Regions from separate parts of the Homo sapiens genome. Here regions 1, 3 and 4 are each reported to be linked to region 2. Evidence: microRNA targets listed by miRTarBase, many of them from high-throughput screens and not tested one by one. Region 2 holds a microRNA gene; each other region holds the end of a gene's coding sequence.
Evidence for each region. The annotated mature microRNA hsa-miR-7-1-3p reads CAACAAAUCACAGUCUGCCAUA and lies in region 2 at 4,349-4,370, shown strand. An mRNA with a match to its seed (bases 2 to 7 or 8) in the 3' UTR can be bound and repressed. Matches are read on the target gene's strand: a 7mer-m8 pairs with bases 2 to 8, a 7mer-A1 pairs with bases 2 to 7 and ends in A, and an 8mer does both.

Region 1: the mRNA of DGKI is a reported target of hsa-miR-7-1-3p. Seed matches in the 3' UTR shown: 7mer-A1 at 5,536-5,542 and 8mer at 7,188-7,195.
Region 3: miRTarBase lists PFDN2 as a target of hsa-miR-7-1-3p. Seed matches in the 3' UTR shown: 7mer-A1 at 1,432-1,438.
Region 4: miRTarBase lists AKIRIN1 as a target of hsa-miR-7-1-3p. Seed matches in the 3' UTR shown: 7mer-m8 at 2,847-2,853.

The regions. Positions count from the first base shown.
Region 1 is chr7:137,385,086-137,392,516 of GRCh38, reverse strand. It overlaps DGKI (diacylglycerol kinase iota), which reads left to right. Exons shown (of 33, transcript NM_001321708.2): 33 at 1,181-7,431. The coding sequence ends at 1,297. Among named protein-coding and RNA genes, the nearest start is that of PTN, 45 kb to the right of the region's middle.
Region 2 is chr9:83,966,752-83,974,140 of GRCh38, reverse strand. MIR7-1 (microRNA 7-1) reads left to right here and starts at 4,284; the gene lies at 4,284-4,393. It overlaps HNRNPK (heterogeneous nuclear ribonucleoprotein K), which reads left to right. Exons shown (of 17, transcript NM_031263.4): 8 at 168-239; 9 at 742-855; 10 at 1,169-1,297; 11 at 1,952-2,259; 12 at 2,415-2,469; 13 at 2,785-2,868; 14 at 3,229-3,244; 15 at 3,322-3,404; 16 at 3,810-3,979; 17 at 4,701-6,058. The coding sequence ends at 4,734. It overlaps HNRNPK-AS1 (HNRNPK antisense RNA 1), which reads right to left and starts at 2,046. Exons shown (of 2, transcript NR_186535.1): 1 at 1,864-2,046.
Region 3 is chr1:161,094,588-161,102,018 of GRCh38, reverse strand. It overlaps PFDN2 (prefoldin subunit 2), which reads left to right. Exons shown (of 4, transcript NM_012394.4): 4 at 1,160-1,458. The coding sequence ends at 1,336. KLHDC9 (kelch domain containing 9) reads right to left here and starts at 3,658. Exons shown (of 4, transcript NM_152366.5): 1 at 2,957-3,658; 2 at 2,514-2,673; 3 at 2,223-2,421; 4 at 1,673-1,958. The coding sequence starts at 3,483. The coding sequence ends at 1,795. RefSeq lists silencers at 3,235-3,284, 3,345-3,524.
Region 4 is chr1:39,003,037-39,010,467 of GRCh38, forward strand. AKIRIN1 (akirin 1) reads left to right here. Exons shown (of 5, transcript NM_024595.3): 4 at 311-382; 5 at 1,009-3,023. The coding sequence ends at 1,019. Among named protein-coding and RNA genes, the nearest start is that of AKIRIN1, 15 kb to the left of the region's middle.

The DNA.
Region 1 (7,431 bases), not on the chromosome of region 2:
AGCCGAGATGAAAGCTGAGAAGTCTCTGATAATATTTATAACACTTGTGTGCATTTGTACATGGAGCTATTTATTTGGTACAATGATCATGCCTCTACCCTTCCTTTGGAACTTAACATAACTTTTTAAATAGTTAAAACTTTATCATTCAACAAAAATTAGAAATTTTGAGCGATGCCAAGTAATATATACAGGCATTCAAAAGAATGGACACTCTTTCTCCCTTTACTGCTGACTTCTTATTCAGTGGCCTCATTTAAAAAATAGCAATATATATATACAAATATATGTGTATATGTGTGTATATAAGTGTACAAAAGGCATTATAGTAGTCTGTAAGAAATTATATGATCATTTAACATGTTGATGTAAAAAATTAATGACAAATTTATGATATATTACTAAGAAAGGTTGTAAAACAGTATGTAAATGAATTGTGGTTTTGTTTTTATAAAAATACGTATAGAGGCATATAAAAGACAAAATCTAGTTATCAATGGAAGGTTAGTAGTGGTTATCTTAGTTTGGTGGAATGATTAGGGATATTCCTTTTCTTCTTTGTGCTTTTCAAGCTTTCCAAGATTTCTTTAATCAATATCTACCACTTTTGTATTGAGAAACTAGCTTAGTTTTTAGAGAGATGAAATAGCCCAAGTCTGAAACCAATAAAGAAAACCTTTCAATTTTTTTATGACTATCCCTTCCTTTTAGTTTCTGTATGTTGATTTCCCAAGTTTAGAATAATAGAAAGAGTCCTAAACTAGAAATCTAAATGCCTGCCTCCCTATTTTTTAAATTCAGTAATTTCTACCTCCCCATCTTCCAGAAAGGCTCTGGGTTTCAAAACTCGCTTTACCCCACTGTTTCCTTCTGTATACTGTTAACCTCTGTGAACTTCTGTTTCCCTAGTATAAACCCCACCCGTCAAAAGTGATAAACTCTTTCCCTTTCATTTACCAATCGCACATGTTCAATTTAATGCTCATATAAGACAATAGATTTGAAAGTGTCTTGTAAACTCTAAAACACCAAATGTGAAAGGATCCTTACTAGCAGGTATCCTTGCGTAGTTCTGTTTCTGTGATTTTTGTTTTGTTTTGTTTTTTGTTTTTGTATTTCACGACTAGCGCTTGTGTCTATCTCTCTCTCTCTTTTTTTTTTTCTCACTATTTTCGTATAGGGTAAGACACCTCAAGAAAGAGCACAGCAGGCTGGGGACCCAGACTTGGCTGCTTACCTAGAAAGCCGTCAGAACTATAAGGTCATTGGCCATGAGGACCTGGAAACTGCTGTTTGACCCTGGTATTCGGGCAAAGAGGACATGAGCAAGCGTATCACATCTGCCCTCCCTGCAATTGGGCAGCTCCCCTGGAAGAAGCTGATGGAATTCATATATCTGTCTCTCTCCTGCAAGAATCTACCTGAGACCATGCCACTAGCTTTTAAGGGCTACCAAGATGTACAACAGAACATGATAGCCCATTGAGAAGGAGGCAGGATACCTGGAGATTTGTGGAATACAGTACGAGTTCCACAAAATTTGATCCTTATTGCTTCCAGCAAGTAGCATGAACTTCTGTGTTCACCTGTATAATTTATTTTAAAGATTCAAAGGATGTTCGTATAAATGGCACTGCTCCATCCTCCCCCTATGCATTGGTTTTTTTCCCTGTACCATACAATTCTACTGTAACTACCCATCAACTTAAAGAAAAATATTATCTCTTCTCTTTACATTCAGTCTTGGAAGACCACAAGATTGTCTGAAGGCCTTCTAAAACCTTCTGAATGTCCTGCAGAAATATAACTGTAAAACCACTTCCATTTCTAAGACTAAATATATCAAGACTATTTAGTGACTCTCTCTGCATGTCCCCCTCACCCGCCAACCCTCCGTTTCATTATATAGGAGCTGGGAAGTGCCACATGGATAATGTCAACTTGTGTGCTATATCTCTGAGGAATGGTGAGGTGGCATGGGAGATGTCTGTGCTTGGAGGTACCTCAGAGAGGTAACCCAGGGGTCAGCCCAGGCTGCTGGGCTGTAGCCAATAGCCATGCAGGACTGGTTCAGCTTGGGCTGTCTGTACAGCTCCGTACTGCCTATGTGTAGCCATCTTTGCCTTTTGCTGCAATAGAAGATGAGCAAAGGATTAAACAGAGGCCCACAGCTAGTTTGCAGAACCACTCAATTTTAAGTGCTGTTTAAATTGCAGAGCAAATAATCCTGTGTGGGAACTGTGGTTACAGGAAATGGAGCACTCTAACAATGTTTACTTCTAAACTTTGTTGAATGATAATAGAAAGCACCCTAATTGACTTGGAAAAAAAAAACAGCAAAAGCAAAAGTAGCAACATATGTCAACATATGTCACTGAAATAGGAAACAGTCATTGGAATGTTGCACAGAGGCTAATAACTATAGACTGTTGGATACAGTGGTGAGAGGAGCCCCATTTTAGGTCTTTCTTTTAGGTTTTTGGTTTTCATTACTCCAAGTAATCCTTGACCCAAGAACAAAGGCTTGTTGTATGAGTTCCACTGCCAGATTTATGGGATGCCTGGATCATTCAGAAGGATGCTTCAACTATTATTTGTCAGGTCCAAAGGTCGTACTTAATAACCCCATTTTCTATGTATGGGGTAGTCTAATATATTATTTTATCTACTTTATTTTTCCCTTTTCAGAAAGTCCTTAGTGCAAACCACCATTGGAATCTAGCCAGAAATGTCTGTCAGATAGTTAGAATTGTAACATCTAAACCTGCCACGGATCGAATGGTACTTACAGGTACCTCTCTTAGGGACTCTGTGATCCCTAAAATATCAGAAGAAAATGTCTGTCTTTCTGTCCAAATATCTACTTGACTTGGGGGTAAGTCAAAAATAAAAGTAGGTGTCCAAGGATTTTACTTTTGGCGAAATCTGACGTCTCCTGAGCTTATTTTCATTTTGTCCTTGGACATAGCATAGTGCTTCCCTAATGTTTCTACATATGACCATGAATGATAGTGTCTCTACATTTAATTTAAAAGTCTAATGGTGACATTTTGCTTATCTGAGTCACATTTCGGTAACATATCATCATTTTGAAAGTGCGGCTATGACGTGCTATATTAAACAGGAACAGCCTTTCAGTGGATGGGGATTTTATTACCACAGTCTTTCCATAGTCATTTCAAAATCAAATTGTTGGTGGGAGGATGGATTGGGTTGTGAGTAATCTACTTCCATATATCAGCCTCAGAAATGGAACTATCCTTTGGATATTACAGGAGACACTGCAGCAGATTGTTTCCAGAAGCTGGAAAAATATGCTCCAGGAGAATTTAATCACTGGGCTTTTGCTGGGGGATTTTTAGTTGGCGGGACTGTCAAGGAAATGTGATGACAGAAATATAATCCTTAACACAAACTGGAATCTGGCTTTGAATGGCATCTTCCATTCCCTGGATTGAGTCAAATGTTTGGCCAAGCAGTCAGTTATCTAGCTGTTACTGTTGGGATGAAGAACTCTGTTTTCATCAACTACCATCTCACATTTCTCTAAATACTTCCAAGTAGCCCAGAGAAAATTTAGGGTACAGGTGGCTATGGGCCAATTTCTAAATAGCTCCAATTGAAGACATAAATCTGTGTTATGAAAAATGATGAGTTGGTACTGTAAGATTCCTGATGCATTTGGAAATTTTTTCAAACCAAAAAAAAAAAAGGCATTAGAGTCCTGTGTTATTCATGGAGACCAATATTTGATATATCGCTTTGAAAAAAGCAAGTACCACTAGGACTTGGGATTTCCAAAATAAAGTGAGCAGAATAACCACATGTTTAATGGCTTCAACATTAAACCACCTCCTGTAGCATGTTTTAAAAATTGGTCCTGGGCTTTGGAAAGAGCTAAGGCCTTATGGTCTAGGAGTTTCCATCTCAGCTTAAGTATATTGTATCCCTACTATTAGGACATCAGGAAAGCAAGTGATCTAGTCCTGGTCTGAAGTGCCATGTAACTTTAACAGACATAAAAATATGTACCTATAGAAATATCATTTCTACAAAGCCTACTGAGACAGCACTGAAGAGGCAGCTAGCTTGGCTGACTCCTCTGTGTTTGTTTCTTTGTGTCATGGCACTGACTGCTTTGAGATTCCATTTTTAGATGTGGTTGATAGAGGAATGGAAAATGAAGAGTTATTAAAAGACAACATTCTGTAACCTGAAAGGTAGTCATTTTTGCAAGCTTATATTTTAATATTGTGCATTTAACAAAATAGAACACAGTTAAACTGTGCTTTATCGTATTCAAGGACTTCATAAAGAATAAGAGAGAAGATTAGTAAGCCAAGAATGGAATAAATACCATGACTAGGAATTTTGCTTTCAGAGCTTATGTTTCCTCTGTAGATGTGATAACCAAAAACCAGTGCAAGTTTTGAAACATAATTTAGCTGGCAAATGCACAGTGATGGAAATTAGTAATGACTGATGGAGAGCCGTACATACCTGTTGCTCCTTATCCTTTCAGAATGGCTGCTTTGGCAGATCTGCCTGTGCTGGGAGCTACTCAACATCACTTCATTTTCATCTGGACCTAGTGAGAGTCCCTTTGCCTAACGAATTTCTGAAATTTATTTATTTACTAGACCCCTTATAATATTCATGGCTTTAAAAAATGACACAGCATCTTTATTTTATTACATGTCAATTTTATTAATAATATTTAGGGGTTTTTTTAAATTATAAAAATGGCACATGCTTTTTATAAAATGTTTTAATACCACAGATGAGTATCACATCCACAGTCAAGGCATCCCTTTGTTCTGGTGTTGTGTCCCACTTCCCAAAAATAAATACGGTTAACACTGATGAACACTGTTGCTTGTATGTGATGTCAGAAATACCCCATCCGTTCATGCACAAGTATGTATGTATATACGCATATACATTTACACACATATATAGACATTTATTTATATACACATGCAAGTATGTATACTATATTCATGTATATTGCATAGGTTTAGAAAAGAGCAAACATTTTAAAAGCATGCTGATCATTTGTATATGTCTAGTGAACACCAGTAGGCAAAGACAGGTTAAACAGAGAAGTTCCATTTATTTTTTTGTTTCCACCATTGCTAGGCTTAGATCTGTTATGGCATTACTACAATTGCACTTAGCATTTTCTATTACCTGTGTCATAAAATTCATGACCAAGAGTTCCTGTAATTGTTTATGTTGCCTTCCATGAAGCATGAAACCTACCATAGCCCCAAGACTTATCTATGCTATGTTTGTATTTCAAGTAAAGGAGAGTTCTTTCCTCTGTGATGCTTACACCACTTTACAAGGCTGTTTGTAACACTAACACTCAGTAGGTTGCCTAGTGATATTTAATTAGGGCAGGCTACTTCCGGGAAGGTGTAACTTCAGTGTAGTATGGGGGTCTGAGCAGCTTGTCTTCCTTCCAGAAGGAGTAGCTAATGAAATCACTGAGAACAGCATATTTTATTCAATTATGCTATTTAAAAATGGGACTTTGTTAAAATGGCTCATCATAACCATCAAATAAAACTACTAATTGTTCTATTTAAATGAATTATATTCATTTTAGGAAAAGAAGTAGAAAAACATCTAATAAATTAGCTTTCTGATTAATCTTTAACACTTATTTAATATAAAATGGCTTCTGCCTGCATCTTAATTGAACCACCTTTGAATCTCTCAACTCCTTTCACTCTGAATCTCATACTCAGCTGATTAGAAGTCCTACAGGTCCTTCTCTGCCAGGTCTGTCAGATCGACTTGGACCCTACCCTTTTCTGTGTCCCCAGTCATCCATTATCTCTTGTCTCTCTAAGTTTTGGGCCATAGCGGCAGTCCTGTCCCTGAACTTTCTGCCTACTACTGTCAATAATTTTGTCACGCAGTTGCAAAAATCTTCCCCAGATATTATGCTCAAAATACATCAAAATGAAATTACCCTCTGGGACAAGTATACCTTTTACTCAAAGGACACATGGATGTCCACTGACCTTGATCATCTTATAGAATTATGGCAAGCATGATTCTGAAAATCTATCAGGTTTAGCAAATATCTGTCTTAGTCCCATGAGGGTACACAATCACGGCTGCTGCTTCCTCATTCAACAATGTAAGCCACATGCCTCTTTGACGGCACCTGGAGGACTAGGTTATAGATTTTACACTGCTGAGGGCCATCTTTGGTTTTACACTGTCTCCTCACAGCTTAATGAGAAACCTGAAAATAAGAACCAAGAAAAGAGTCATGCCCTTGGACAACCTCCTCTCCCAGGACACTGAGATTTACTGACCAGGTCCCAGAAAGAAAGCAGAAAAATAATTCTTAGGCTCTTGTAGCATGGATTTTAAAATAGAAACGTGAAAATTGAATGGTATCTTCATAATGCATAGACTCCAGAGTCTATTTACATATGTATTCAGTTATGCATGTAATCATATGTCCATGAATCAATCATAAGTGCATGTATTTAATCATTATTTGAAAAATATTTGTCACTCTGAGGCAGGCATCATACTAAGGATATAACAATGAATGTAATAGACAAAACTCTTGATTTCATGAAGCTGGCATCTAGAAGAAAAGACAAATTCCAATGTGATAAGTGCAGTGCAGGAGAACCCCAGGGTGTCCAGCATGGGCTGGAAATTCAACCAAGGCTTTATTGTACCAGCCACTCATTAGCCAGCAATGTTTTGGTTCAATGAAAACATAAGTAGGAAGAGAATAATATTTTGCATTTCCATTTTACTGGAGTCATAGTAGATTTCTAAAAATGTATCTGAAACTAAGATTTTAAAACAAGACTTAGAAACACTATTAAAATGAAAGCTAAGACTGATTTATTCTAGCTCTCAGGATAGAACTAGGAAAAATAAGCAGAGTTTTCAGTGGGTTTTGACTAAATATAAAGAAGATGAAGTACAAATAATATGTAATAGTGGAGTGGATATCACAGTTATAAACTTTCAGCCTCTGTTAGCATTTAAACAGAGGATACCTGACCACTCTGAGGGGTGTTGTGATTAGGAATATGTGATTTGAGGGGGCTAAAATTAGATGCTGTGATTTTTCAAAAGATATTTTTTAATGGCTTTGTTGAATGGCAGGATTTTATTTTAAAAACTCATGAAAATCTTGATTTTTGATTTGTTAAACTTTGCTTTATAACTGAGAATTTTAAAAATATCTAGGGGAATGGCCGTTAGTTATCATTTAAAAAATTTTAAACTAAGCATGAATTTAAGAGCTAGTCAAAAGAAAACATACTAAAAGGTGTAATTTAATTAAAAATACTTCTGGAAGCTTATAAATTTTGATCAGTATTCTTAGTCATTGTCAAGTAAAATTCTATTAGAAATCTGTCTTACTGTCCATCCAATATAAAAAAG
Region 2 (7,389 bases):
AGAGAAAAATATTTTATGTTTTGAATCGTCTTAATGTTGAATAAAGCAGTTTCTCATTATTTAATAATATAGATTTAAAATATGTTGTAGTAGCTTTACCAATATATGCGACAATAGCCTGATCACGCTAGACACTTAACCTATTACTCTTATTTTTCTACTTTCAGGGCCTGCAGTTGCCATCACCCACTGCAACCAGCCAGCTCCCGCTCGAATCTGATGCTGTGGAATGCTTAAATGTATGTCATAGTGCCATTGAACCCCACTGAAGTATGGAGCCTGGCCCATAGGATCGATTATATTTTTAACATAGTGTGCTTTTCCCATCTCTATAGAAAAAGGCTTAAAAACATGATACATGAATGGTCTTACAACTCACTGTTGACCCTGCTCCATGCTGCAGTGGGAATTAACTACATTTGCAAAGTGCTTTGCAGTCATTTTTATTATGGTGTTATTTGAATGTTAATAATAATTTTGTGGTAACAGCGACATGCTAAATGGCTGCAGTGTGGGTATGGTGTTGCAGGACCTGAAAATAAAATAGTTTTTTAAGGTGGTGCAGAATGTCCTTTTTGGGCCTGGCTATTGAGGATAATAAGCACATAACTGGTAAAGTTATTGAAATATAAATTCAGGTTGCTCACTGCAACAGTATATTATTGTTATGCTTATAGCAGATAAGTGTGTATTGGGGAATTGTTGATTTGAGACTAAAATTTTATAATTCTCCCTCCACAGTACCAACACTATAAAGGAAGTGACTTTGACTGCGAGTTGAGGCTGTTGATTCATCAGAGTCTAGCAGGAGGAATTATTGGGGTCAAAGGTGCTAAAATCAAAGAACTTCGAGAGGTAAAAAAAAAAAAATTCTGCCGTATTCTTTGCTGGAAAGTAAATTTTCATATAGACTTGTTTCTGTGAGCTTCTCTCGCTTCCCCTCTCAGTTCCCTCCAAAGATTGCTTATCGCAAATGACAAAAAATGTCTGGCACTGCTAGACATGTTATTTTGTCAAAATTTTTATACCATTGCAAAGCCCTGTGATAATTAATGAAGTTTTTATATTGTGGGGGGTTAATTGTTGAATTCAAATGCAATTTTCACTGAACCTAGGAAAGCTAATTTTCTTCTAATTATTATTATTTTTTTTTATGATCTTACTACAGAACACTCAAACCACCATCAAGCTTTTCCAGGAATGCTGTCCTCATTCCACTGACAGAGTTGTTCTTATTGGAGGAAAACCCGATAGGGTTGTAGAGTGCATAAAGATCATCCTTGATCTTATATCTGAGGTACTTCAGAACACTTTTTGTTTACATTTGATTTTATGAAACAAAGTGATAACCTTCTGCAAAAGTAGCTTCAGAGCATTTAGTCTAATAGTCTTTATTTGCCCTTTCCCTAGCAATTTTCTATCACCTGGCTTCAGCCATCACTTTAATTTAAAAATGGTTTTGAAAAAGTGGAGAGTGGTAATTTGTTGGTGGTATTTCTATAGCCTTTGAGCCTTTGAATGAATTTCCTATAGTGTTGCTTGTGTCTTTGTAACTATGCTGCAGGGCTTCCTATCTCAGGTGCCTCAGTATGGATTACAGGCTTGCCAAGACTGATCTCTTCAGCCCTTGTTGTGAAATGTGCATTGTAGTTTGTCATGTGTAAAATGGGAGGGCTTTGTGGTTTCTTACGATCTAAGTGTAAGAGCAAGCTATTACTTCTCCCTGTATAGGCAATAGAACTCACTTTTGTTTAGCATTTGCCAAAAGTATTGGATTTCTTTGGAATCTTTACTTTGCTACTTTTAGCGTTGACATAATTCCTGTTTCTGTCTCTAGTACCTCCTGATGGGGGAATGACTTACATTTTGTTTGATGATGATGTTAGAAGGATTGGTATGAAGCAGGACTCTTTTTCTTCAGTCTGTAAGTTTGTTCCATCTCTGTTTTTAGTCTCCCATCAAAGGACGTGCACAGCCTTATGATCCCAATTTTTACGATGAAACCTATGATTATGGTGGTTTTACAATGATGTTTGATGACCGTCGCGGACGCCCAGTGGGATTTCCCATGCGGGGAAGAGGTGGTTTTGACAGAATGCCTCCTGGTCGGGGTGGGCGTCCCATGCCTCCATCTAGAAGAGATTATGATGATATGAGCCCTCGTCGAGGACCACCTCCCCCTCCTCCCGGACGAGGCGGCCGGGGTGGTAGCAGAGCTCGGAATCTTCCTCTTCCTCCACCACCACCACCTAGAGGGGGGTAAGTTGTTTTTTTTGTTGTTGTTGTTTTTTCTTCCCCCATCTATGAATTATTAACCTGCAAGAGGCTGCACTTAGTGGTAGACAAGGTAGACTTTGATTTGATATGTGTGGCATGTAAGCACGTTTAGATTACAACAAGTACTATGCTTGCAGAGACCTCATGGCCTATGACAGAAGAGGGAGACCTGGAGACCGTTACGACGGCATGGTAAGAACTTTGGTTTATTACCAGTGTGTTGGGTATGTGAGGGTTGTCACAATGTAGTTCACGTTTTGTTGAAGGTTATAGTGATTAAAAAGTTTTTCTTACAAGTAAATTTTGTTTGGATTACTAGTTAAATAATTCTGTTATTTGCTGCTGGAGGATTACGACTTTATTGAGCTTTGTTCCCCTCGATTACAAAATTGCTGCCTATATATGTACCCTCTTTTGTTTTAATGTAACATGCAAATTAGGCATATTAAAAACAGCTCTATAACAAAATACAATGCGGGTTCATGTTAATGTTTTTATCTCTAACAGGTTGGTTTCAGTGCTGATGAAACTTGGGACTCTGCAATAGATACATGGAGCCCATCAGAATGGCAGATGGCTTATGAACCACAGGTTGAGTATCATAGTTGTTCGTGTGTATATCAGTGATAATTTAAGATGCTTACCTGCTCTCCAGTAAGTTTTTTATTCCCCTGAGGATACTTACTGAAAATAGGATACAGGAGGACTTTGGTTTCCTGAAGAGGGATTTTATGAGATTAAAATACTTGAATAGTGAAGCTGGGTGCAGTGGTGCTCACTCATAATCCCAACTACAAAAGAGTCTGAGGCAGGAGGATCACTTGAGCCCGAGAGTTTGAGACCAGCCTGGGCAACATAGCAAGACTCCATTTTATTAAATGAATTTTTTTAAAGTACCGGTAGTAATTACAACGGCAAAGTAATTTTCTATTTTTTTCTTTCTGTTTTTAGGGTGGCTCCGGATATGGTAAGTTCTCTCCTTTGTGAAGTCAAACATTAATTTCATACTTTTTAAATGAACTTACTGCTCATTATTTAAATCAGATTATTCCTATGCAGGGGGTCGTGGCTCATATGGTGATCTTGGTGGACCTATTATTACTACACAAGTAACTATTCCCAAAGATGTAAGTATCTTTAATACTACCAGGAACATTTTATCACTTTTATGATTATTCCTCCTTTCTGTATATTTTTTAATTCAGAAGGTTTTAACAAAAATACACATTTAGGATTGAGGTTATGTTAATGGGCTTTAGTGAGCTGGGTTTTCAGCTGTTTGAGTCTTGTCAAGTGATCAGTGCTATTAATAAAAGTAGTTAAGTAGGTTTTGAGCCCTTAACTAACTAAGGGAAACATTAGTAAGTGTGACATAAATACATTATAACTCAAACCTTGACAGGTTTAGGGAGCGTTAGATCATCAGTTAAGATTCTGAATGAATAAAATTAATAACTTCATGCTCCTTGAAAATACAGGTAGTAAATGTTAAAAGTATATCGTAAACACATACTTTTAAAAAATCTTTTCAGTTGGCTGGATCTATTATTGGCAAAGGTGGTCAGCGGATTAAACAAATCCGTCATGAGTCGGGAGCTTCGATCAAAATTGATGAGCCTTTAGAAGGATCCGAAGATCGGATCATTACCATTACAGGAACACAGGACCAGATACAGAATGCACAGTATTTGCTGCAGAACAGGTCAGTTTAAGTTTAGCTTTGTGTTAGCTTATACATACTAAAACCTTTAAAAAGCTTTTCTTCTCAATTGATTTTTTTCTTTTAGAAGCCATGGTGTCTCAACCTTTTGGGGACCTAACTTCTAAACATTCTAATAGTTTGCCTTAATTTTTCTTCTGCTTTCTTACTAAAAATGAAGACATTCAATACTAATCTTGCTGGAAGAAGCCTTAACCAAGCAAACTTCTCATTTCTCTGGTGAAAACTGCTGCCAAAACCACTTGTTAAAAATTGTACAGAGCCTGTAGAAAATATAGAAGATTCATTGGATGTTGGCCTAGTTCTGTGTGGAAGACTAGTGATTTTGTTGTTTTTAGATAACTAAATCGACAACAAATCACAGTCTGCCATATGGCACAGGCCATGCCTCTACAGGACAAATGATTGGTGCTGTAAAATGCAGCATTTCACACCTTACTAGCATTCTTTGTCTTTTCTACCAAATATTAACAACTTTCAATTCCGTTTTCTTAATTCTGTTCTACTAATGTCCGATTTACTACTCATCATTTTTCTTGACACTTAACATTGCTTTAATTTGTAATTGCTAATGGTTTTTGAACTCTTCTAATTGTAATGGACGTGTTTATCATTTTAATTTAGCATTGAAATTGTCTTGATGTTGATTAAGATGTTACGAGCAAAAATTCTAATTCGCACTTTTTTTTCTTTTCTTTTATAGTGTGAAGCAGTATGCAGATGTTGAAGGATTCTAATGCAAGATATTTTTTCTTTTTTATAGTGTGAAGCAGTATTCTGGAAAGTTTTTCTAAGACTAGTGAAGAACTGAAGGAGTCCTGCATCTTTTTTTTTTTATCTGCTTCTGTTTAAAAAGCCAACATTCCTCTGCTTCATAGGTGTTCTGCATTTGAGGTGTAGTGAAATCTTTGCTGTTCACCAGATGTAATGTTTTAGTTCCTTACAAACAGGGTTGGGGGGGGGAAGGGCGTGCAAAAACTAACATTGAAATTTTGAAACAGCAGCAGAGTGAGTGGATTTTATTTTTCGTTATTGTTGGTGGTTTAAAAAATTCCCCCCATGTAATTATTGTGAACACCTTGCTTTGTGGTCACTGTAACATTTGGGGGGTGGGACAGGGAGGAAAAGTAACAATAGTCCACATGTCCCTGGCATCTGTTCAGAGCAGTGTGCAGAATGTAATGCTCTTTTGTAAGAAACGTTTTATGATTTTTAAAATAAATTTAGTGAACCTATTTTTGGTGGTCATTTTTTTTTTAAGACAGTCATTTTAAAATGGTGGCTGAATTTCCCAACCCACCCCCAAACTAAACACTAAGTTTAATTTTCAGCTCCTCTGTTGGACATATAAGTGCATCTCTTGTTGGACATAGGCAAAATAACTTGGCAAACTTAGTTCTGGTGATTTCTTGATGGTTTGGAAGTCTATTGCTGGGAAGAAATTCCATCATACATATTCATGCTTATAATAAGCTGGGGATTTTTTGTTTGTTTTTGCAAATGCTTGCCCCTACTTTTCAACAATTTTCTATGTTAGTTGTGAAGAACTAAGGTGGGGAGCAGTACTACAAGTTGAGTAATGGTATGAGTATATACCAGAATTCTGATTGGCAGCAAGTTTTATTAATCAGAATAACACTTGGTTATGGAAGTGACTAATGCTGAAAAAATTGATTATTTTTATTAGATAATTTCTCACCTATAGACTTAAACTGTCAATTTGCTCTAGTGTCTTATTAGTTAAACTTTGTAAAATATATATATACTTGTTTTTCCATTGTATGCAAATTGAAAGAAAAAGATGTACCATTTCTCTGTTGTATGTTGGATTATGTAGGAAATGTTTGTGTACAATTCAAAAAAAAAAAAGATGAAAAAAGTTCCTGTGGATGTTTTGTGTAGTATCTTGGCATTTGTATTGATAGTTAAAATTCACTTCCAAATAAATAAAACACCCATGATGCTAGATTTGATGTGTGCCCGATTTGAACAAGGGTTGATTGACACCTGTAAAATTTGTTGAAACGTTCCTCTTAAAAGGAAATATAGTAATCTTATGTATTTTTTTGTGTGAAGTGTTTTTCTAGCATTTATAAGTGAAAGCTGGCAGGGGTGGTAGTTGGGCTCATAATTAACGTGGTAATTTAGCAAAATGAGAGCCTAGTCATCCAATTTTTTTTTTCTTATAGTCAGCCAGAGCTTTCCTCATTACCTATGAGAAATTTTGAGTGAGTTACTTGGTTCCTTTCTCTAAAATAGCTTTAGTTTGATGTTTGAGAATATCGGAGATAATGTAAAATAACTGCAGAGTATGGTTCCCGGCTCATATTTCTGAAGTACTACTTATTAACCTCCAGCTGTCCAGAAAGCTTGAAAACTGTTTTTGTTTTGTTTTGTTTTGTTTTTTGAGACAGTGTCTTGCTGTTTTTCCCAGGCTGGAGTGCAGTGGCATAATCTTGGCTCACTGCAACCTCCATCTTCTGGGCACAAGCAATCTTCCTGCCTCAAAACAGATGAACAACTATATAGGAAAGGAGTCATGAATGTAATTATTGAATTTAGGTCAGAGGCTTGTGTATAATAAAAGTAACAGTTGGGCAGTTCTAGAATTCATGTAAGTATTAATAGTATGAACAGAATAATGTCTTTTAAGGGAAGTAGAGTTGAGTGACATTTAGTTTGGGGAGGGACGTAGAGTGATCTTTTGATTAATGAAGAACATGAAGTAAATGTCAAAATATTACTTAAAACTAGTGAATGCTACCTGTGGTATGGTTTCCCCAGTGTGGTTGAGTTGGGGTTGCTCAGGGTGAAATGAGCCCTTACCCCTAAAGAAAAATGACAAGGACACTTTAGTCAAATTGTTAATCCTACTGAAGGAAAGCATCCCTGGAGAGAACACTGGCTTCCAAAGCTTTTATCTGTTACCTGTAAATGAGTTATGTAACACATGGACCATTAGCTGCAAATGTTTTCACTTTTGCATTTTACAATAATTTCAGACCTTAAACACATCATTCTACTGAAGACTTAATGGATTGAAGAATATCTGGTATTGATATCTTTGATATACAGCTTTGGGAGGGAGAGGGGCCTTTTGCATTGCCACTGCTATTGATTGGTAAATGGTATTTAAAATTTGGGTGAGAATTGGGACAGGTTGGGAGAATTTTCACAAAGGGTGGGAGAAGTGAACATAAGCTCTTTAATTAAATGGAATATTGAGACAATTTTGTAAGAAGTTACTGGTGTATAATGCTGACTTAGTTTCAAAAATTTAGCCTAACTTTTTGTAAGTTAATTACCAAAATGCCAACAGACAGAAACCAAGTTGTACTAGTTATCTCAAGAATTTAAAACCTTTCCCTACTATTCAAATTTTGTTTGCCTTT
Region 3 (7,431 bases), not on the chromosome of region 2:
TACAGTGGCTGTAAACCCAGCACTTTGGGAGGCCAAGGCAGGTGGACTCTTTGAGTCCGGGAGTTCGAGACCAGCCTGGGCAACATGGTGAAACCATATCACTACAAAAAATACAAAAGATTAGCTGGGTATGGTGGTATGTGCCTGTAGTCCCAGCTACTCACCTGAGCCTAAAATGTCGAGGCTTCAGTGAGCTGTGATCACCTCACTGCACTCCAGCCTGGGTGACAGAGTGAGACCCTGTCTCAGATAAAAGGAGGGCAGCATAAAATAGCCTATGCTCATTATGCTATGCTAAGTGCAACTCTTAGACAAGAGGAATTGCTGACTGCTGTGGGCTCTGTGACTTGGCTGAATTGGGGTGGGAGGATTGGGGTTAGAGTAATGTTTCTCATAGTGTGTGTTTCACGAATACATGAATCAAAATCACCTGAAGGACTAATTTATAAATGCAGCTTCCCAGACCCACTGGATTAGAACCTTTGGGAGTGCCATGAAGTGACATTTTAAAAATAAGCTAGGCAGGTTGCAGTGACTCACACCTGTAATCCCAGCACTTTGGGAGGCCGAGGCGGGCGGATCACGAGGTCAGGAGGTCAAGACCATCCTGGCTAGCATGGTGAAACCCCATCTCTACTAAGAATACGAAAAATTGGCTGGGCGTTGTGGTGGGCGCCTGTGGTCCTAGCTACTCGGGAGGGCAAGGCAGGAGAATGGCGTGAACCTGCGAGGCGGAGCTTGCAGTGAGCTGAGATTGCACCACTGCACTCCAGCCTGGGCGACACAGCGATGCTGCAACTCAAAAAAAAAATATTAAAAATAAAAAATGAAAAAATAAAAATAAGCTCATGCCTGTATTCCTAGCGCTTTGGGAGACCGAGGCAGGAGGACTGCTTGAGGCAGAAGTTTGAGACCAGCCTGGGTAACATAGTAGGAACTTGTCTCTGTAAAAAATAAAAATAAGCAGCCCAGGTGATTCTAAGTACATTAAAGTGTATAAACCACTGTGTTCAAGAAAGGAATAATTTTAATGTCTGGGCTCCTCTACTTGGTTAAAGGTAAGGTTAAATGTGTTAACACTTCCTCCAACCATAGTCCATTCCAGGTGGGGGAAAGGAGTCCTGAATTCCTTATATAATCCCTGTCACTTGTCCTCTAGATACAGAAGATCATTGAGACACTGACACAGCAGCTTCAGGCAAAGGGAAAAGAACTAAATGAATTCCGGGAAAAGCACAACATTCGTCTCATGGGAGAAGATGAGAAGCCAGCAGCCAAGGAAAACTCAGAAGGGGCTGGGGCTAAGGCCAGCTCAGCTGGAGTGTTGGTCTCCTAGGGACCAAGGCCTTTGCATTTTTTTCTACCCTGACTCCCACTTCTAATTTCTCTTTATTGTTATTATTATTATTTTCTCTGCTATTGTAATATTTTTTTGTTAATTAAATGTTTTGGTCAGAATCTTAGCTGTAGCCTGAAGTTTTCTCCCACTTGGGGGTGGAAATTGTTTTGAGACACGGAACAGCATATGATGTGTGGTTTTTGTTTCCATCAGGTTAATGACTCATAATATGAGAGTAGGACCCATATTTATTTTATCCTTTCCTTGCAAATAAAGGTATGTCCACTTATTTACTGCCCTTCCCCCTCCCCCCAAAAATTTCAGAGACAAATCTTGAGTCTCAGATTGAAATTTAATAAGCATTTGAAGTGAAGCAGATAGCTCTGGTGATAACGCTTTATAGGTTTGCAACAAAGCAAAACAAAACGAGGCTTAGTGATGTGTCTTGGCACTATTTAGATAAAGTCCAGGATGCAAACCTGTGGACTGGCTGTCCTGCCATCCTCACCAAAACCCCCAACCAGGTAAAGCTGATCATTCCAAAGGCAGGTGCGATGGCCCATGCGTTTCATCCCACGATCTGCACAGGGGAAGTGGAACCACAAAGGAGGAGATGTGCCTGTTGGATACGGGCAGAGGGTGGTTATTGAGGCAGTAGCACTTTGTCATTCACAGAATTCAACATGACCAAGGGCTTGCCCATTGTTTTTCTGCTCACTTGATTTGTAGGCCTCTTCAAATGCTTAATATTCTGTGTACTCCTTTAACTCCTGTCAACTAATTTTTCCTCCTCCCTACCCCATCACTCCATCCTCTTTCTGTAGTCTTCAGGTTCCCCCATCTTCCCACCTTCCCCCCCTTCAGCCATTAGTCTGGCTCTCACGAGTATCATAGATGTAGAGATCATTGCAGATGGTGTCTCTAGCTCTGGTCAGAGTTTCTCCACCAAACAGCACAGCAAAGGGCCCGACCACAGAACATGAGTGATGCCGTAGTCCATGGGGCCCCTTCTGGGACCCCTGCCCACTGCTCACAAGCCTTGCAAGCTGTTCCATCAAATGAGGAGCAACAGGTGGTTCCTCCTTGGGGAGAAAGAAAGGACTGTCCGAAGAGACCTGGGCATCACAATTTTAGCCTCTTCCCATCCTAAACAAGATGTGTGAGGAGCTAATACCTTAATTTTCCCATGACTCCAATGCCCAGCTACTTCTGGTTCAGCTAAGTTGCAACCTCCAAAGAGCAATAGCTGATGACCTGGATGGGGTCCAGGAGTTTGGAGCAGGGCCGCACAGTGACCTGAGCGTGAGGCTGTGTGGCAGCCTTCTTGCTTGTAGCTGTGGACATGCAGAAATTCAGGGCTGAGTGGGTTTTCTGGAAAATGTAAGTGCCACCGCCCTTGCCAAGGATGGATGGAGAAGAGGCATGGGGCAGTGCGGTAGGTGGGATAAGAGGGAGGGTAATACTGTAGAGAGCTCAGCTAGCTTAAACATGGTAGGTTCCCCTGGAAGGAGGGTGCTAGAGTGAGGAGGTGGATAAATTGCCTGAGAAATCTGCTTAGGCTTTTGTTTTTCGAGAGTGTGGATGAGAGTGAAAGGTTTTGGGCGGAGGGTGCCATACCAATAGGTGCGGGCGCTGGGGTCCAGCCTTAATGTGTAGATGCTTCCATAGCGTCGCTGAGTGTGGATACCGCCCTCCCGGCCAGCCACCTGCAGCTCTCGGTCAGAGATTCGGGTGCAGGTGTGACTACTGAGGCCGGCGGGGGGGCAGTCACCAGGGGTCCCTGTCCACGCCTCCCACACACCGCGCTCTGTGTCCAGTGCGGTCACTGTGGCCAAGCGGCGAGACCCGTCCCAGCCGCCCACCACGCAGAGCCAACGCCCGTCCACGGGTGCCGCGTCGTGGTGACTGCGCGGGGGGCTGCCCCGGGCTCCCAATCGTACGGCCTGGCCCCTAGCTGGGTCGAAAACCACCGTATCGCTGCTGGGCTCTCTCGCTCCTCCTGCTAGGAGACCACCTACGAGATAGAACCGTCCCCGCAGTTCGGTGCATGAATGGAAAGCTCTAGCCAAAAGCGCGTCCCGCGCCACTGGCCTCCAGGCCCAGCCTGAGCCTGCGGCCCGACCCGGGGGCACGGCCACCGCCATGGGCCCCGGGGAGAGGGAGGGCGGTGGGGTCTGCGGCTTGGAACGAGCCCCTACATGGCAGGCCAGGCACCTCGCCTTCCGCGGGCTTCCCCGGGAACCTCCCCCTACCGGACGCCAGCCGGGGTTCCCACCTCAAGTCCCGGCTTTCTCTCCGTGGTCGCCCAGCAACCACTGCAGCGGCTGCAGCGCGACCGCTGCAAACCGAAGGTCGCAAAGCAGCAGTTACCGTGGAGACAGGACACCTGGGTGGCTATCGGGAACCGTATGGTGGTGCCACCAAGGCTACGGGAGCTGTATCAGGTCAATAAAAATCCTGCAAGATTGTTAACCTCAGAAAGTCGGAGGACAGTCGGGTCCTTAGAATAAACCCCTGTGATCTCCGCTGTGAACTGATTTGCGATTTTGACATTTGAGGTGCAGGTGCTGCTCCACTAGGGCCGGGAGGGATCATTTGGCTTCAGGGTTTCTTACTCGGGCTAACCACCCCAGGGATGAGCAAGGAAGGAGAAGCAAAAGTCAGAGGGTGGGGAAGTGAAAGTGGACTGACCACTGGCCCGAGAGACAGGAGACCTGGGTTCTAGTCCCAACTATGCCCCTGACCCTCAAAGGCATTGTTTCTCTCTAGGCCTTCTCAGTTTTGTCATTCATCAAATAGGCTGTTCGTTTATTCCCAAAGGCTTGAAGGTCCCGATTGATTGGGTGGGAGAGTCCTTTCAGCTCTGGCCACTAGAGGGTAGCAGAACCCAGTCTCTCAGGTGACACACACACACACACACACACACACACACACACACACACAGAGAGAGAGAGAGAGAGAGAGAGAGAGAGAGAGAGAGAGAGAGAGAGATAGAGAGAGAGAGAGAACCCACGCAGCCTTAGAAGGGTGAAGTGGGGGAAGAGTGAGAAAATGAGAAAAACAGACTCCTACCCTTCCCTGATATCTTTTATTTAAGCCAGTTTCCAGATATTAACTCTGTCCCCCAGGACCAAGTGATAACTGAAGAGGCCCAGATGCAAGCTTTCTGCTTTCAGCTGAAGGAGGAAATACAGACAGAATTTTCCTCCCAACACAGCTGGTGTGGGGCAAAAACAGGATCTGTGTCCTCTGGGACTGGGCTGTAAGTGGGAATGATGACTGCTACTTGTGGCCTTTGGTTTCTACACATCACCTTGCTCCCCATCATACCTGAGATACTGAGACCATAGAAAGTGGCCAGGCAGGAGAATCACTTGAGGCCAGGAGTTCAGGAGTTCAAGACCAGCCTGGGTAACATAGTGAGACCCTGGCGAAAGAAAGAAAGAAAAAAAGAAAAGAAATAAAGAAAGGAAGAAAGGAGACAGTGGCCAGGGCTGCAGTGAGGATGGGCATGTAATGCAGGGTCTGATAGCACAGCAGGGCTTTCCCCTCCTCTTCCCAACTCTTGGTCCTCAGAGAACACAGCATGGGGATGGCATGGGCAGGAAAGGCACAGTTACAGAGATTGGAAGATTACCAGGACCTGTTCCCCACCTGTACCTTAAAGCCAAGATTCAACAATAGCTTTGAAAGTCTCTGCCCTCCCAACTATAGCTTTCCCTGAGTATGACAGGCAGTATTCTCAGTTTTCCAAAATCATGGTAAGAATCTCTAAAAAATCACTAACTTTTACTGTCCTTGGCTGAAATTTAAAAGTCAGTCTTTTCCCTCAGGCTTCTTTCTCACTGGCTAACCTCCCAACAGCTGGATTCAGATCTGTCATACTCCTAGGATTAGGCAAGGGCTTGCCTCAGGGGTGGGGCAATTTTGCTTAAACCTTATTGGCCTATATGTCCATTTTAGGCTCTTGCTTTTGCCTAAGTCTTGGCTGTTCTGTTAGACTTACTTTCTGCCTTTCCTGGATAGAAATGGGAACTCCCCACCCCACGGGCCTTTCCAGCTCCTCTCTCCCAGCTTCCTCTCTGACTCTGAGTCCTTAGCAGTAGGCATCTTAGTTAGACATAGAGCTTGAACCTCACATACTCCTTGGCTGTACCCTCTCCAGTTCTGTACCTAGATGCTTCCAGTTCCTCCTAATAGCTGGAAGCATCTGTCCATTGCTTTGCCATCCCAAGACCCTGGGAGAGGAACTGCCTAGGACTCCTACCTTCTTAGGTTAGTTTGAACCAAATCCATATTTTGGAGGAGGGAGAAAAGAAGCCAGAAAGAGAGAAACAGAGAGAGGAAGAAAGCAAACCAGCCAACCTGGACTTGTATGACACATGCTTCACACCGCAGGACAGCATCTGCAGTGGTCTATAATGACCTTGTCAATGATACACAAACTGAAAGGGCATTAAGATAAGTGAAAGGGGGAACTGAGAGAAAATTGTGAGAGACAGGGAAAAGGGCAGCCAGGGCTGTGAACCTGCTTTCACCTGCTAATAATATCCAGGGACAACCTCTGTCCAGAAATGAGAGCAGGGACTGGATATCCTGAAAGTCTCGTAATCCTGATGTGATCCCCTGATGTTGGCTTTGTCTCAGTTGGCCAAGAGTCTATATGATCTCTAGCAAGCAAGCACCCAGCTTCCTACCTAGCCTTAGATGTCTATCCTAGCCCCAAATCTACGCCCCCTTGCCTCAAACTTTCACAAAGCTCTTACTCTATCTTCTCCCTTCCTTAACCCCATTTTCTGACCCTGGAACCATCTCTGGTTCTTAGCATTATTCGGTACATACAGAAAACCAACAATTGGGCTGGGTGTGGTGGCTCACGCCTATAATCCCAACACTTTGGGAAGCCAAGGTGGGTGGATCACTTGAGGCCAGGAGTTCAAGACCAGCCTGGCCAACATGGTGAAACCCCATCTCTACTAAAAATAAAAAATAAAAAATTCACCAGCCGTGGTGGTGCATGCCTGTAGTCCCAGCTACTCTGGAGGCTGAGGCAAGAGAATCGCTTGAACCTGGGAGGCTGAGGTTGCAGTGAGCCGCGATTGTGCCATTGCACTCCAGCCTGGGTGACTGAGAGAGAAAGAGAAAGAGAGAGAGAAAGAAAAGAAAGAGAGAGAGAAAGAAAAGAGAGAGCGAGAAAGAAAAGAGAGAGAGAAAGAAAAGAGAGCAAGAAAGAAAAGAGAGAGAGAGAAAGAAAAGAGAGAGAAAGACAGAAAGACAGAAGGAAGGAAGGAAAGAAAGAAAGAAGAAAGAAAGAAAGAAGGAAGGAAGGAAGGAAAGAAAGAAGGAAAGAAAGAAAGAAAGACCAACAATTGCACCAAACGGTCTTAATCGCACTCAAGACTCCCACAGTTCCCTCTGCCCATGTCTCCCAGGCTGTCCCCATCCTTCAGGCCCTTTCTTTGACTCTTCTTCTGCTGTACCCTGACCCTTCTCTATTTCTCACACAGCTCATTCTAGCTGCTTGACTTCCTGGCCCTATGCCATCCTGGCCCCATTTCTGACTCTTTGCTCTCAGCTCAGCCAGAATAAAGACAGGGACAAAAGGACAGAGAAATGACCAGGCAAAGAGACTGCATGAGGTCAGATCTTGAGAGCTCCTTTGACTGAATGTGAGCTAGAAGGAGATTGAGAGAAAGGTGAAATTGTAAGCAGGCTTTAGGGTGGAGGGGAGTGGTAATCAGCCAAGGTAGAGAATGATGGAGAGGTGGAATAAGGATGGGGAGAAGCTTATGTTGTTGAGGGAGTAGGCAATGTTGAGTAGGAAAGTATCATTGGGTCATTGCTGAGCGGTGGGAATTGAGGGCAGAAGACAGAAGGACTTTGAGTAATCATGGCATCCAGAAATTTCTCTTCGGGTCCTTCTGTCTCTGTTTCAGATTTTGTCTTGGCCACTTCAGCCACTTTGTCTCTTTGAATTCTCCCCCTTCAATAACTCGCGCGCGGGCGCGCGCGCGCATGTGTGTGTGTGTGTGTGTGTGTCTCCAATACAATCCCTGACTTACAATGGTTCAACCTACAATTTTTCTTTTTCT
Region 4 (7,431 bases), not on the chromosome of region 2:
ATTTCCTGGCTATGGTAGTGAGCTATTAATAGGAGATAGAGTTATGTCACGGGGGAGAGGTTATCAGGAAAATACCATTATATACCATCAGTGACCCATTCTAGAAGCCAAGGATTTGGCTCTGGGTTCTAAGAGGAACAGATCTCAGTGACCTTTATATAAGGTCACTGGACTTTAATACAAGGACCTTTATAAAGAGGGCCTGAGAGGGTGAAGAATTCAAACTGGGAAGCTATTTGTGATCCTGACGCTTGATTCTTAAAAATTGAGGGAGAGTTGCTGAGGATAAGTATGTACTGTCTTCTCACAGAACAATATGAATCTTTTGTGAAATTCACACATGATCAGATTATGCGACGGTATGGGACAAGGCCAACAAGCTGTAAGTATTGCCACATTTTCTTTGAATTTTCTAAGTTTCAAGAGCAAAATTTCTACACTGAAACTTCTCTCCTCAGAGTAAAAAGTCCCTGTGAAGTAAAATGTGCCCAGCACTATGCTAAGAGTATTAAATCCACACCAAAGCTTATATAAGCCTCACAGTGACCCTATGAGGGAGTACTATTATTAGCTCCATTTTACTGGTAAAGATAGCATTTAAAGAGGTTAAATAATTTGCCCAAGCTTATACAGCTAGTGGTTCAGCTAGGATTAAAATCTAGGTAGTCTGACTTGAGCACCAATTTGTTACCTGTCTTTTCTCCAGAAAGATAGTTTCAGTTGTTAATTTATGAAAGTTGATTCCTTAAGTTAGTTTATCAAGTGTGGTCAGGATTTCTTATTCTAAATAATTTGCAACTACCAGATATTCAAAGCATAAAATATTAACAGTTGTATATCTAACTGAATTTCAGTCAGGTTCCTTAAATTCTTGATCTTTAGTATCTTTTAAGTGGTGAGTCATCGTTCATGCTATTTCTCACATTTACTGTTAGTGAAAATTTTTAAAGCATGACACTACAGTTTTTAGTATTCTTACCCTTTTTGTTTTTTATTCTTAATTTACAGATGTGTCATGAAGCTTTGTCACATATCTGGGTACCAGGTTTGACCTCAAGAGATGGCTGCTGTACACTTTTTGCAACTGGTTTGATGTCACATTTCAGCTCCAACTTTGCATCCTGAGAACACTTAAACGTTTCTGCAGGTCCATTTTATACAACTTGAAAGACCGTAAAACTTTCTGGTTGCCACAAGCATATCTTTCTTTTCTGCTCATCCAATAAACAGCTGTGCCCTACTGTGATAGATTTTCCAAACAAAAATACCTGGAGCAGCAGTTTAGCAAAATATGCCTTCAGTGGCATTCAACAAATGGAGTTTCCCCAAGCACAGTTCTGTAAGAAGTGCGTGTGAGAGTGTGTGTATATGTGTGTATGTGTATTTTAAGTTATTATTTGTATTGTGCAAAAATTTTTTTTTGATCTTGGGGATTCTGGCTGTGAATTTGGTGCACGACAATTATGGTAAAAAAACATTTGCTTGGTCTAAAGAAGATCATTAATGTTTTGTGACCATACAAGTTGTAACAGTGGATTGTTTTTATGTGTAGGTATTGTTAAATACAGGGACTGTTTCCAGGCACAGAATATGAATCGTAAGTTAGGATGGACATTAGATGTGATTATGATGATAAAGCGAAGGTCTGCGGTCCTATATCTACAGACACGTGGTGAGAAATTAGAACAAACTGGAGACGGGCCATTGACACATGGACTCTGCCTGGGCATGTTAGGTTAATTCTTTGACTCCAAGCCTTAAAATACTCACATGGAGTCAGCGCTCACCTCATTCACACAATTATCATAGAGCTCCCTGGACACTGAACCTCTAAAGGGAAAAGGTCTACCCTGGAGCCAGGAGCATCAGGGTTGGCTTGGGAGCATGAGAGGTGAGCCCAGGGCTAGGCCTGGGCCAGGCCCCGGCAGCACTGCTACTTGGGAGGAGCCACTTCACCTTTGTATTAGTTATTAAAAAATATAATTTGGGCTGGGCGCAGTGGCTCACGCCTGTAATCCCAGCACTTTGGGAGTCCGAGGCATGCGGATCACTTGAGGTCAGGAGTTCGAGACCACCCTGGCCAATATGGTGAAACCCCATCTCTACTAAAAATACAACAAAGTTAGCCGGGCGTGGTGGCAGGCGTCTGTAATCCCAGCTGCTTGGGAGGCTGAGGCAGGAGAATCACTTGAACCCTGGAGGTGGCGGTTGCAGTGAGCACAGATCATGCCACTGCACTCCAGCCTGGGCAACAAAACGAGACTTCGTCTCAAAAAAAAAAAAAAAACATAGAATTTGGATCCTTTGGTCGGGTTCTCCCAAATTCTTTTGAGGTGTCCATGGTCAACTGCTTCAGCTTTGTTTTGGCAACCCCCTGCCCGAAGTCGCATATAGGCTGTTCTTCACCTTGTTTCCAAGGCTGAGGAACAGAAAGTAGCCTCTGTTTTGAGGAGGTGGAAGTTAAGTATACATTTATTTTTTACTGTGACTTGTTCAGGACCACATTTTACAAAATGCCTTGTTTCCTTCATTGTTTCTGGAAAGGAAAGTTCTATTAATATTGTTTTACTTTGAATATAGAATAGTTTTTTTAATTAGGGCTTATTTTGAAAAATTCTGAGTTTAATTCAAATGTATGCCAATACCTTCCAAAGTAAGGTAATATTCAGAGACAGTTGTTGTGATCAGATGGCTTAGAGAAATTTCTGGAATATTCACATTCGAAGATTCCTTATTAATGAATGTCTTTGACTTAAATCTAACCAAAAACTGCAACATTATTCTTTGTACATTTTCATTATATAGTGTTAACAAGCTTAGTTGCAAACAAATAAAATACTTAAGCTATTTGTTTACCTTGCCTTCTTAATACTGTGATAATGTTTATTAATTCAAATAACTTATGTGAGAGCTGCTATAACCATTTCCCCAGTTCAACATTGCATTGAAAATTTATGGACCTTTAAAAAAAAAAGCCCAACAGTGATTTTTTTTTAATAATTAAAGAATGATTTTACTTTGTATTTGAAGGGTGATTTGTTTCATCTCTTCTTTTTTCAGGGTAGTCACTTGTTCCTAAAAGAGGAACATAGCAGTGGCTGTAATGGGAATGGCTCTGCAGTGGGCTAGTCACACCAAAATAAAGAAAGGGCAGCTGTGGGAGCCATCAGAAGCTGTGGAGGCTGGACTGGTAATGGGGAATGCTGCCCCACTGAAGTCTTGTTTTAGAGATCAGTGTGATGTGCTCACTTAACTATAAAGTGTCAGTCCCCATTCCAACTAAGTGGCTCCTGGCTGGGAAGTAGAGTAGGTTTCTCTAAGGAAAATGACACCTGCTCACCACCCGCCCCACTATACCACATTGTTGTTAGGCTATCATATAATGATAAGGTAGCCCTCTGAGGCCACAAGGTAAGACCAAACCACCAGGGCTGGGTTTTGGGATCCCCTCTAAAGAGACCACACATGTTTGTTTAGTGTTTATAATCTAGAGAAAAGACAACTGGGACAGAAAATGGGGACCTGGAAGGTAGGTCTCAGACTGGTGAATGAATTTTTCCCTAGACCTTGATTTCCAGAGCTTGAATTTAAGGGCACTCCCAGGTAGAGAAATGTCTTTGTCCCATGGAAATTATAGACCAAGGAAGACGTCAACCTATAAAAACGTATAAGGGTTTCTCAGGAACAGTGTTTTCAGAATATCTGGTGAGCTAGCTAATTTTTTTCTCTATTTTAATTCCAGTTATTATCCTTGATAAAGTCTTAAGCTTAAGAGGAAAAAGTAAGTGTCCATCCTTGGGTCAGAAGTTAAAAGGAAGATCAGAGCTCCTAAGGCAGTGATAATTGTTAAGATCTTCCAAAGGGGAAGACCATCAGAGAGTACAAGAATTTAAGCCAGCGGGTGGCGCACGCCTGTAATCCCAGCACTTTGGAAGGCTGAGGGGCAGATCACCCGAGGTCTGGAGTTTGAGACCAGCTTGACCAACATGGTGAAACCCCATCTCTACTAAAATACAAAAATTAGCTGGGCGTAGTGGCGGGCGCCTGTAATCTCAGCTACTTGGAAGGCTGAGGCGGGAGAATCAACCTGAAACCATGAGGCGGAGGTTGCAGTGAGCCGAGATTGTGCCATTGCACTCCAGCCTGGCAACAGAGTTAAGACTATGTCTCAAAAAAAAAAAAGGATTTAAGCCAATCTTTCAAACCTGGTGAATCTTCTTACCATGGAGGATTGGTTGGCTAGCATAGTAAAGGACTGACTGCGTGGTTGTAGCTCTGTAGTTTGGTTTCTTCTCTGCCACTAATTTGGTTATGTCAGCCTTGCCAGATTACTAAACTTGCTGAAACATGGCTTGCTTACCTGTAAAATCGAGGTTAATAGTAGGTTCATATTGGGTTTTGTTTTCAAATGCAAGAAATCATCCATGTAAAGAAAGTATTTAGCACAGCTTAGGGCATAGACTATGCACTTTACAATGTTAGAGCAGGTTTCTTTATAGTAGTCTTCGTCAGACCTGGAGACCCAAACTTTTGTGTCCCAAGTAGTGATTCTCAGCTTTCCAATATGAATAGCCCCTTGTTAACATAAAGATCTCACTTTTTCTTATTAGAATTTGTACCTTTGTTTGATTAAGGAAATAAAAGATGAATGACAAATGAATTTGGTAATGCCTTTCTGTGAATCTGTATTCAGTATGTTTTGTATGTTAATATAGCAGGGTCATACAAAAACTGGCCTATTTTTGTAAAGTTTTGTAGAAACACTGCTACACCTATTCATTTGTCTGTGGCAGTTTTCACACTAACTCCAGACTTGAGTAGAGTAGGTGCTACAAAGACCAAAGCATGGGCCACAGAGCTGAAAATACTTACTCTGTGTCCTTTTACAGAAAAGTGTGCTGGCCTTTGCACTAAAGCATGAAGAAACATTTGGGAAAAAGCACACAGGCTGGGCACGGTGGCCCATGCCTGTAATCCCAGCACTTTGGGAGGCCGAGGCGGGCAGATCACCTGAGAATGGGAGTTCAAGACCAGCCTGGCCAACATGGAGAAATCCCATCTCTACTAAAAATGCAAAATTAGCCGGGCGTGGTGGTGCATTCCTGTAATCCCAGCTACTTGGAAGGCTGAGGCAGGAGAATCACTTGAACTTGGGAGGTGGAGGTTGAGGTGAGCCGAGATCACACCATTGCACTCCAGCCTGGGCAACAAGAGCAAAACTCTGTCTCAATTAAAAAAAAGAAAAAAGAGCAACAAACAAGGCAAAGTTACTTCATTTATAATCCTTGTTGCATCATGAGTTGGTCAACACTTACCCTAATTTGTCATTCTTAAGGCTGTTATACCTTAAGTTGAGGTGTGATGAAAATACCCTTTTTGCTTACAAATAAAAACTGATTGCCAAAGTAAGTATGTCACAGAAAAAGCTATTGAACAACTGTTTAGAGCAATGATTCTCAAGGATGGGGACACAGAGCATACTATTTGGGGAGGGAAAAAGATTTGAAATGACCAATTTTATTTCAAGCATTTTTAATTTTGGAATTTTAGGTACAAAAATGGGTGTGAGAATTTTGTTTAACAGAAAATAGCATGGCTTTAAAATAGTTTGTAAAATACTGTTCTTAAGGAACAGAGTGTAATAGTGCCCATGGGCTATTAAAAAGGAACAGAAACTTCTCTACTACTCTGGAGTCCTTTGTTGAAAACAGATTGAGGGAGTGCTGTAGTCTTCCAGAGCTACAGTTAAACTGGATAAGGTTGGACACCTGGAAAAAAGCGTACATTAACCCACCCTAAACCATACTTTTTTTTTTTCTTTTTTTTGAGATGAAGTTTCATTCTTGTTGCCCAGGCTGGAATGCACTGGTGCAATCTCGGCTCACTGCAACTTCCGTCTCCCGGGTTCAAGTGATTCTCCTGCCTCAGCCTCCCAAGTAAGTGGGATTACAGGCATGCACCACCACGCCCAGCTAATTTTGTATTTTTAGTAGAGACGGGGTTTTACCATGTTGGTTGGGTGGGTCTTGAACTTCTGACCTCGTGATCCACTCGCCTTAGCCTCCCAAAGTGCTGGGATTACAGGTGTGAGCCACCGCACCTGGCCACCAAACCATACTTTCAAGTAAATAATTAGCACTTTATTGTACTGAAGGTGTGATATTTTGACAATTTAAAGTTCTGGTCTTCATGGGTCTTTGTTTCGTTTTACTTATTGCTGTATCTAATATCTCCTTTTTTTTTTTCTTTTTTGAGACAGAGTCTCAGTCTGTCACCCAGGCTGGAGTGCAGTGGCGCAATTTCAGCTCACCGCATCCTCCGCCGCCTGGGTTCAAGCAGTTCTGCCTCAGTCTCCTGAATAGCTTGGATTACAGGCGCCCGCCACCACGCCTGGCTATTGTATTTTTCAATAGAGAAGGGGTTTCATCATATTGGCCAGACTGGTCTCAAACTTCTGACCTCGTGATCCACCCGCCTCAACCTCTGAAAGAGCTGGGATTACAGACGTGAGCCACCGCGCCCTGTGTAGTATCTCATTTTATGCCTGGTTATCTGTGAGCTGGACAGTATATTTGAAAAATTACGGTGGGCATGGTGGCTCAGGCTGGGTGCGGTAGCTCACGCCTGTAATCCCAGCACTTTCGGAGGCCAAGGTGGGCAGATCATGAGGTCAGAAGTTTGAGACCAGCCTGGCCAATATAATGAAACCCCGTCTCTACTAAAAATACAAAAAATCAGCCGGGCGTGGTGGCGGGCGCCTGTAATCCCAGCTACTAGGGAGGCTGAGCCAGGAGAATCACTTGAACCCAGGAGGAGGAGGTTGCAGTGATTCAAGATTGCATACCATTGCACTCCAGCCTAGGCAACAAGCAAATCTCCATCTCAAAAAAAAAAAAAATTATTATTTGCAGGAGTGAACAGGACAAGAATGAGGGTATCTATCTCTAAGAAGGATTTATGTTGCCTGTGGCTGAGGATACTACCAAATCATCTGATGCAGGTTTCAGAAGGCTGAAAGTACCTCAGGTCATCCAGATTAAATATAACCTGGTGGCAAGTCCACTTGAGAACTGGTTTACTTTTTTTGTTTGGTTTTGTTGTTGTTTTTTGAGACGGAGTCTCACTCTTGTCACCCAGGCTGGAGTGCGGTGGCACGATCTCGGCTCACTACAATCTCTGCCTCCCGGGTTCAAAGGATTCCCCTGCCTCAGCCTCCGGAATAGCTAGGATTACAGGCATGTGCCATCAAGCACAGCTAATTTTTGTATTTTTAATAGAGACAGGGTTTCACCATGTTGGCCAGGCTGGTCTTGAACTCCTGACGTCAGGTGATCTGCCTGCCTCGGCCTCCCAAAGTACTGAGATTACAGGAGTGAGCCACCACGCCTGGCCGAGAAATGGTTTACTTTTGATTCACCTTTATCTTAAAGG